Linked DNA regions of Homo sapiens. The protein of the gene in region 2 interacts with the protein of the main gene of each other region in a biochemical or structural test. Each region holds a gene or a part of one and is shown on either strand. Other genes may lie near its edges.

What was found.
Region 1: the proteins of CFHR5 (region 2) and PTX3 form a complex in vitro, tested with the Homo sapiens proteins (one study listed by IntAct).

What each region holds. Positions count from the first base shown.
Region 1 is NC_000003.12:157,439,850-157,444,133, reverse strand, and holds the end of PTX3 (pentraxin-related protein PTX3 precursor), read right to left. Parts: intron 1,769-4,284; coding exon 1,155-1,768; 3' UTR 501-1,154; downstream 1-500.
Region 2 is NC_000001.11:196,994,556-196,998,055, reverse strand, and holds part of CFHR5 (complement factor H-related protein 5 precursor), read right to left. Parts: intron 2,340-3,500; coding exon 2,157-2,339; intron 2,035-2,156; coding exon 1,855-2,034; intron 1-1,854. UniProt on the Homo sapiens protein: Involved in complement regulation. The dimerized forms have avidity for tissue-bound complement fragments and efficiently compete with the physiological complement inhibitor CFH.

The DNA.
Region 1 (4,284 bases), on a different chromosome or scaffold from region 2:
GGAGAATACTAGTGTGGTGGGGAAAAGTTACCTCCCCATCCACAGTGTGAAGGGGCTTGACCTCTCCCTTCTGAGTAAGGAAGAGAATGGGGTGTGCTTTCAGGGCAGGAGTTCTTTTCCAGATTCTTAGGTCTCCCAAATAACATTCCTAAGCCATGTCTTGCAGCATCATGTGTATCTGAGGAACTGTGATAATTCATGTTTGGTGTTTGTTTTTATGTTACACAGTACAGAAAGTTGTATAAGCTCCTAGAATTGTCAAATGGGAAGAGTCCTAGAGATTCTTATTTCATCAATTCCTTGATTTCTCAGCTGAGAAAACTAAAACCCACAGAGATGAATTGACTTGGCAGAGATAATATTTCTTGCTTATGATTTATAGGAAGCCAAACTTAAAACAAGTCTATAGTTGCTCATTCCTAACAATATTAACCATGCTGTTTACATAATAGTATCTGAAAACTAATTGCCTACTTTAAATGAAAAGAGAAAAGTACGAGTTTGCTCCAAAACATCTCTTAAATTTATAATTAAATGACGTGAGCTAGTTTTATAAAATATTTTATTTACAGTAGAGCTTTACAAAAATAGTCTTAAATTAATACAAATCCCTTTTGCAATATAACTTATATGACTATCTTCTCAAAAACGTGACATTCGATTATAACACATAAACTACATTTATAGTTGTTAAGTCACCTTGTAGTATAAATATGTTTTCATCTTTTTTTTGTAATAAGGTACATACCAATAACAATGAACAATGGACAACAAATCTTATTTTGTTATTCTTCCAATGTAAAATTCATCTCTGGCCAAAACAAAATTAACCAAAGAAAAGTAAAACAATTGTCCCTCTGTTCAACAATACAGTCCTTTTTAATTATTTGAGAGTTTATCTGACAGAGACACAGCATTAAACTGAAAGCACCATGGCATAAAGTCTAGTAACATTATCCTCAAAAGCTTTTTCCAATGTCTTTCCTTCAACTGTTTATTCAGTATTTGGCCAGTACAAATAAAGATTGGTCTCAACTCTCTCTTTCATTAGTCTCAAGTGTTCCTATTATGCACTGAGTTTTCAGACCTTCCCAACTGGCATGTGTTTTAAGTGTGAGTTTCTTTCTTTGGCTTCAAGTGGAGTTTCACAACATTTATGAAACATACTGAGCTCCTCCATGTGGCTGGATCTCTGTGACTCCCCACCCAACAATATTCCCCCGGATGTGACAAGACTCTGCTCCTCCGGTCTCTCTTATCTCTTCATTGCTAAGAACACTATCCCAGATATTGAAGCCTGTGAGTCTCCCAGAGAAGGCTAATGTTTCATCAAAGCCACCACCCACACAGCAGCCATTCTTTTCTTGGCCAATCTGCAGGATTCCTCCCTCAGGAACAATGTGACCTGTGGCCATCTCAACAGTGGTAGCCGCCAGTTCACCATTTACCCACAAGGATGTGAGCCCTTCCTCTGAATTCCAGGTGCCGCACAGGTGGGTCCACCTTCCCAGGGAAACCATGGCTTCAGCAACCAGTTTGTTCTCCTCTCCACCCACCACAAACACTATGGATTGGTAGCTGAGATACAGCTGGATTTCATATGGATTCCTCTTTGTGCCATAGGAAAACAGGATGGTTTTGTTTAATACATCTGTGGCTTTGACCCAAATGCAGGCACTAAAAGACTCAAGCCTCATTGGTCTCACTGGATGCACGCTTCCAAAAATCTTCTTGGAACGCATTGGGAATAAAATAGCTGTTTCACAACCTAGAGTAGCAAGAAAATAAGAAGAATATTAAAGAAAATATAAATTAATTCAGAATTATTCTGGCATTAGTTATTTAACATAAGAATTTTAATTATTACAATTGAAAGCTATGTGAAACCCTACATTACGACTTAAGAAGCTTCCACTGTAATCTCTGCAGAGCAAAGAAAATGAGAAAAAGGAAAGCCAATTGTCTTATCCAATGAAGCATCTAAATGAAGAGAAAGCACGCAAATAGAAGAGCCAACTAGTCCAAACCCACAAAATAATAAAAGCCATAACTACCTCCCCTTCCAATTTGCATATTTTCTTTGTTACTGCTTTTTTTTAAAAAAGTTGAATCACTATCAGTTAACTTCAGACAATAATTCTATAATTTCCAAGAATTCAGAACCCAACCTGGTTCTCTCTTTTTGCCACCACCAAGTTCCTAAAATAATAAACCTGTGAAATTCAGTAGACCTAGTTCGCTCCATTTAGCCTTTACCAACATGCATTTTTCAGCAAAATTCTAGGATAGTGATGTTATTGCAGAATACATTTTTTTTTTTTTTTGAGACAGAGTCTCACTCTGTCACCCAGGCTGGATTGCAGTAGTGCGATCTCGACTCACGGCAACCTTCGCTTCCCAGGTTCAAGCGATTCTCCTGCCTCAGCTTCCGGAGTAGCTGGGACTACAGGTGCACACCACTGCGCCCAGCTAACTATTGTATTTTTTTTTTAGACACGGGGTTTCACCATGTTGGCCAGGTTGGTCTTGAACTCCTGACCTCAAGATCCGCCTGCCTCAGCCTCCCAAAATGCTGGGATTACAGGCATGAGCCACCACACCTGGCCTGCAGAATACATTTTAATACACCAAATGTTCTCAGATATTTGTAAACTTTGCAGAGTTTTTAGAAAACTACCTTTGAAAGGCAACAATGTATAATAATGATGACTAAGCTTATTGGGCATTCACTATGTATCAGATACTGTTCTAATCATTTTGTTTGTCATTTTAATCCTTATGCCAACCATAAGAGATAGTCTTTTACATTCCTATTTTACAGATGAGAAAACTTAGGTAAAAGTAACTTATCTATGTTTACATAGCTGATAAGCAGTAAAACTAGAGTTTGAATTTTTGCAGTCTGGTCACAGAGGCCACGCCCTTAATCAGCACACTACAGTGCCTCTTATTAATAGAACCCCTAGATTTCTCTAGGAGGGCTAGAATCCAGATGGTGTTACTACTAATGAGCCATGCAACTTTGGATGAGCACCATAATTTCCTCTAGGCTTTAGCGTTATCTAAAAAAGGCCCTTCCATTCTGCTCCTAATATTCTGCAAGTCTGTAAGCAGCAAGTATGTAGCACTTAAGAGCTGAATAGACCAAAAATGTGTTTAAAAATTCTACCTTGTCCACATGCTTATAATTACTATTTAAGCAGTAATTGAAAATCTTTAAGAGAAGTACATTCTTTCAAGGGGCCTGGTTGGAGAACATGTTTCTGCTAAAGAGCACTTGGGAGGGGGACTTTCAAATTTGAGGTGGAAAGCTCAGTAAGTTTCCACCATTGTCCATCTCAAGGCGACTTAGCCATTTGGGAAGCTGGAGATGCTGAAACGAAAACCTTTTACGTGTCCCTGGGAAAGAACAGGTGAGCTCTGCATCTATATACATAAATATATATATATGTATGTATACGTATATATACACACATATATACATATGGATATGTATGTATGTATACATACATATATGTATATAAATGTGTGTGTATATATATGTGTGTATGTGTATGTAGGTATTTTTTTAAAAACACCTAAATTAGGGCAGGTATAACAACCTAAAGAAGATATGCCATAAGACAGCTTTGAAAAGCAAACTCCCAGAATGGTTCCAGAATAACTGGTAAAGAGAAAGAACTTGCAGAAACCAAACATCCATGTAAAAGTGTGGTAAACTATGTCAGATTCCTACAAGTGGCTCAGGGGTAGGCTCTATCCTGAAAACATTAAACAAATATGAACCTTATCCTTTAGTGTTAGGGATAGTCAAATAAAATATTGGCATTCAGATAATCATATAAAAGTAACTACAATACTAAAACACAAAACTGGCTCTGTCATGCTTTGATACTTTTTCACTAAATAATTTGAACTTTTGAAGATTTTTTAAAATTAATTTTTAATGAGGCAGTGATTCTATTTTCAAATGAAATTGCTAGGTACATCTTTTCTTCCAGCTGTGTTAATTAAAATCAAATAAAAATCACTGAAAAAAATCACCATATCCATGGGCATTTGATATAGTCTCTATAAAGTTTCAATAAAGTAGTGTTCAATCACACCTGTAATCCCAGCACTTTGGGAGGCTGAGGCGGGTGGATCACAAGGTCAGGAGATCGAGACCATCCTGGCTAACACGGTGAAACCCCGTCTCTACTAAAAATGCAAAAAATTAGCTGGGTAAGGTGGCGAGCACCTGTAGTCCCAGCTACTCAGGAGGCTGAGGCAGGAGAATGGAGT
Region 2 (3,500 bases):
TATGTTTGATGCTTTTAAGCAACATCACAAAACTTATTCTTAATCTCATTGCACAAAATAGACAATGCTGTTGGAAAAAGAAAAAATAAAACAAAAAACTGTATCCCATCTTTGAATGACAGGAAAGTAGGTCAGAAAGTTTTCTGGGAAATGAAAGTGCAAGATAGGTTTTCCTAGTGGGAGTTTTGACTGAAAGATAGTTCTTAGGAAGCTACAAATGAATTGTTAGAGGCTCTGAAAATGTACACATGTATGATTGTTTTGCACTAAACTATCTTAAATATCTTCAAAACATTTAAATAATAAAAAGAGGCAATACATGGGTAAGTCTGCAGGAAGCAAAGCATCAGTAAGAGATAGATCTGGGTCCCCCTTGAGGTTCAATGACTCACATTTCAAAAGCTCAGCAAAAACTCTGACTCAGTAAGTCAGAGTATTCTCAGGGGAAGAACTCACTGATAATAACACAACTGAGCTTCAGAACATAAATTCCTACTAAGCCTCTTGCTTGTCTAAGTAGTTCTCATTGTTACATTTTTTTCCCGTTTCCCATAAACATGTAGATAGTTATGGAGCCTTTTCCTTAGTGTGTAAAAGGATGGGATAATGAGACATGGAGTGTGCTCTGCTACTTCTATGCTTACAGGTGTTTTCTGCAATAGTTTCTATTTTTAATTCACCCCATATGGGGCTAGAGGTTGATATTTATGTACTCCTTGCATAAAAGTTGATGACCATGAAGATATATGATCTACATCTTCCCATAACAGCGTTCTGGCTCCTGGTAGTGGAAAACATTCCCTCACAATAGGTCATCACGGATGGCCACTGACCAGGTATTTGCTGGGACAACGGCTGGCAACACCTACAGTAATTTTTCCCAGCAATGAGTGGGCCAGTTGATTATCCAAAAGTCCAGGAGATGGAGAGAGAGGCGGTTCTGTTTCAGTTTCTGTAAGGAGGAGAACAGCGGCGGAAAGTCTGCTTGTCTTTAAAGTTCAAAATTAGAGGCTTTAATGTATTGAGGTTGCTAGAGATAGGACAAAAGAGGCCAGGATCTGAGGGTGTCGGGAAAAAAAATACCTGCAAGTACTTAAGTGTCAAGGCTGGAAGTCCTGAGGCTGCAAGGTAAGAGTAGAGCACACAGGCTGATAGACTACTACTACTTACTACTTACTACTTACTTACTACTTACTACTTACTACTTCTGTGGAGGAAACCGACAAACTAAGTAGATAATTAGGAATAGAAATAAGAGAATTATGGGACCAGAAAGAGCAAGGATCATGCCTAGTTCCTGGGTCCTAGTCCCCTACTCTTCTTCTATGAAGGGATTCCAAACACTCTGGAATTTAATAGAACTCAAGCTACATTGCTATTTTTTAGGTTGTTCTATCTGGAACATGCTGAGGTAAAGACTAAGTTAAAGCAATGAAATAAAAGAAATTAAATCGCCATCATTTGTAGAAATACAATATCCCAATTAAATATTAGAACTAATACAGAAATTCAACAAGGTTACTGGAAACAAAAATAATGTATGCAATTAAATCACATTCTTGCATATAGAAAGTATAACTATTCAAGCATATACATTAATAAAAGTTTCCATTCATCATGCCAGAAAAATCCCAAATAAATTGGTGAAGAAATCTGTGCAGTAATAACAAGAAATTCATAAAACCATATGGTAAAGTTTAATGTAAGACCTGAATAAATGGATTGACATATTTTACTTGTGGAAGGAAGAGTCAGTATCAATAAAATTGTAATTCTAGCCAGATTTATACACTTTATACAATCCCAATCAAAATGATAAATAATCAAATATAAAGTTTAGGAATGTTTTCTCACCAACACACATAGGAAGCTCTGTCCATATTCCATTAATACAGGTAATCATGTTATTTCCAATCATTGCATATTCATTTCTGCAATTCACCTCGACTGAAACTCCATGTTGATAGGGAGGGACAGACGGCTGAACATAACCGTACTCGAGTTCAGGTATGTATCCACATGTTTTCACTTGTTCTAAGAAAATGTAATAAAATGAGTGCTTACTCTGAAAATATTTTAAATCTGTTTACATGTGTATTTATATATAAGTGCAAAGTAATAGTAACTGTCCTGTTTAAATGTTAATATTTATTTACCAACACAAGTGGGTAAAGTTGTCCATTCTCCATCCACACATTGTATTTTCTTAGGCCCGTTTATTATAAAATTAGGATTGCAATCATATTCCACTACTTCATTGTGTCCATATTCCTCTTTTCTTATCTCCTTAACTTCACCATTGGAGAGTTGAGGAGGTGGACCACATGATCGTACTTGTCCTATTATAAAGAAACCATAAATAATGCTTAAATGGTCTTATAAGTATAGAAAAATGTGGAGTTACTAAATTTTTGACTTAGAAATTAATTGCCTTTATATTGCACTTCTATTTTTGGGGACATGTGTTTTTTGCAGTGTACATAGTGTATTGACTGCATTCGTTTCCTCAAATATTGACACTTTTCATGATGAACAATTTTGAGCAAATGAAAGGAGAAAGAATGCATAATGAACACTTATAAACTGATTACCTAGATATAAAAATGTTACACTTTGCCCTATTTACTTATTTTTTGTGAAGTAATTGAAAGTAAATGACAGTGAAATTTTAGTCCTAAATTCTTCAGAATGCTATCTCATAAAGACATTTGCCTACATATACAAAATATCTTTTACATTTCACCAAATTAATAATATTTTCTTAGTACAATCTTATATCCTCTCTATATTTAAACATCCTGATTGTCCATCTTTCCCAATATTTTGTAGGCTGTTTATTATAATCAGGATATTAAGTTGTACCCTTGAAGATTTTTAAGTAGGTCAATAATCTGAAAGTTATATAAAAGTAAATAGTTATCAAATATGTGATATAATATACATATGCAATGTATAGTTATAACTTTTATTAATATCTATAAATACTTTGATATGGATTGGCTGTGTCCTCACCCAAATCTCATCTTGAATTGTAGCTCCCACAATTCCTATGTGTTGTGGGAAGAACCTGGTGGGAGGTAATTGAATTATGGGGCGGATCTTTCCTGTGCTATTCTCATGATAGTGAATAAGTCTCACGAGCTCTGATGGTTTTATAAAGGGAGGTTTCCCTGCACAAACTCTCTTCTCTTGTCTGCCATCATTCGAGATGTGCCTTTCACCTTCTGCCATGATTGTGAGGTCTCCCCAGCCACGTGAAACTGTGAGTCCATTAAAACTCTTTCTTTTGTAAATTGCCCAGTCTTGGGTATGTGTTTATCAGCATTGTGAAAAGGGACTAATACATACTTCAAATAATGTGATAAGCCATTTTTGATAAAAATAGTGCCATCTGAAGCAGGTATAAATCATCACTGTTTTCTAATGAATAATTCGTATATGCAATGACTTATTTTCTTAATTACTTAATAAAATATAACATTGTTCGTACAATATTTCTA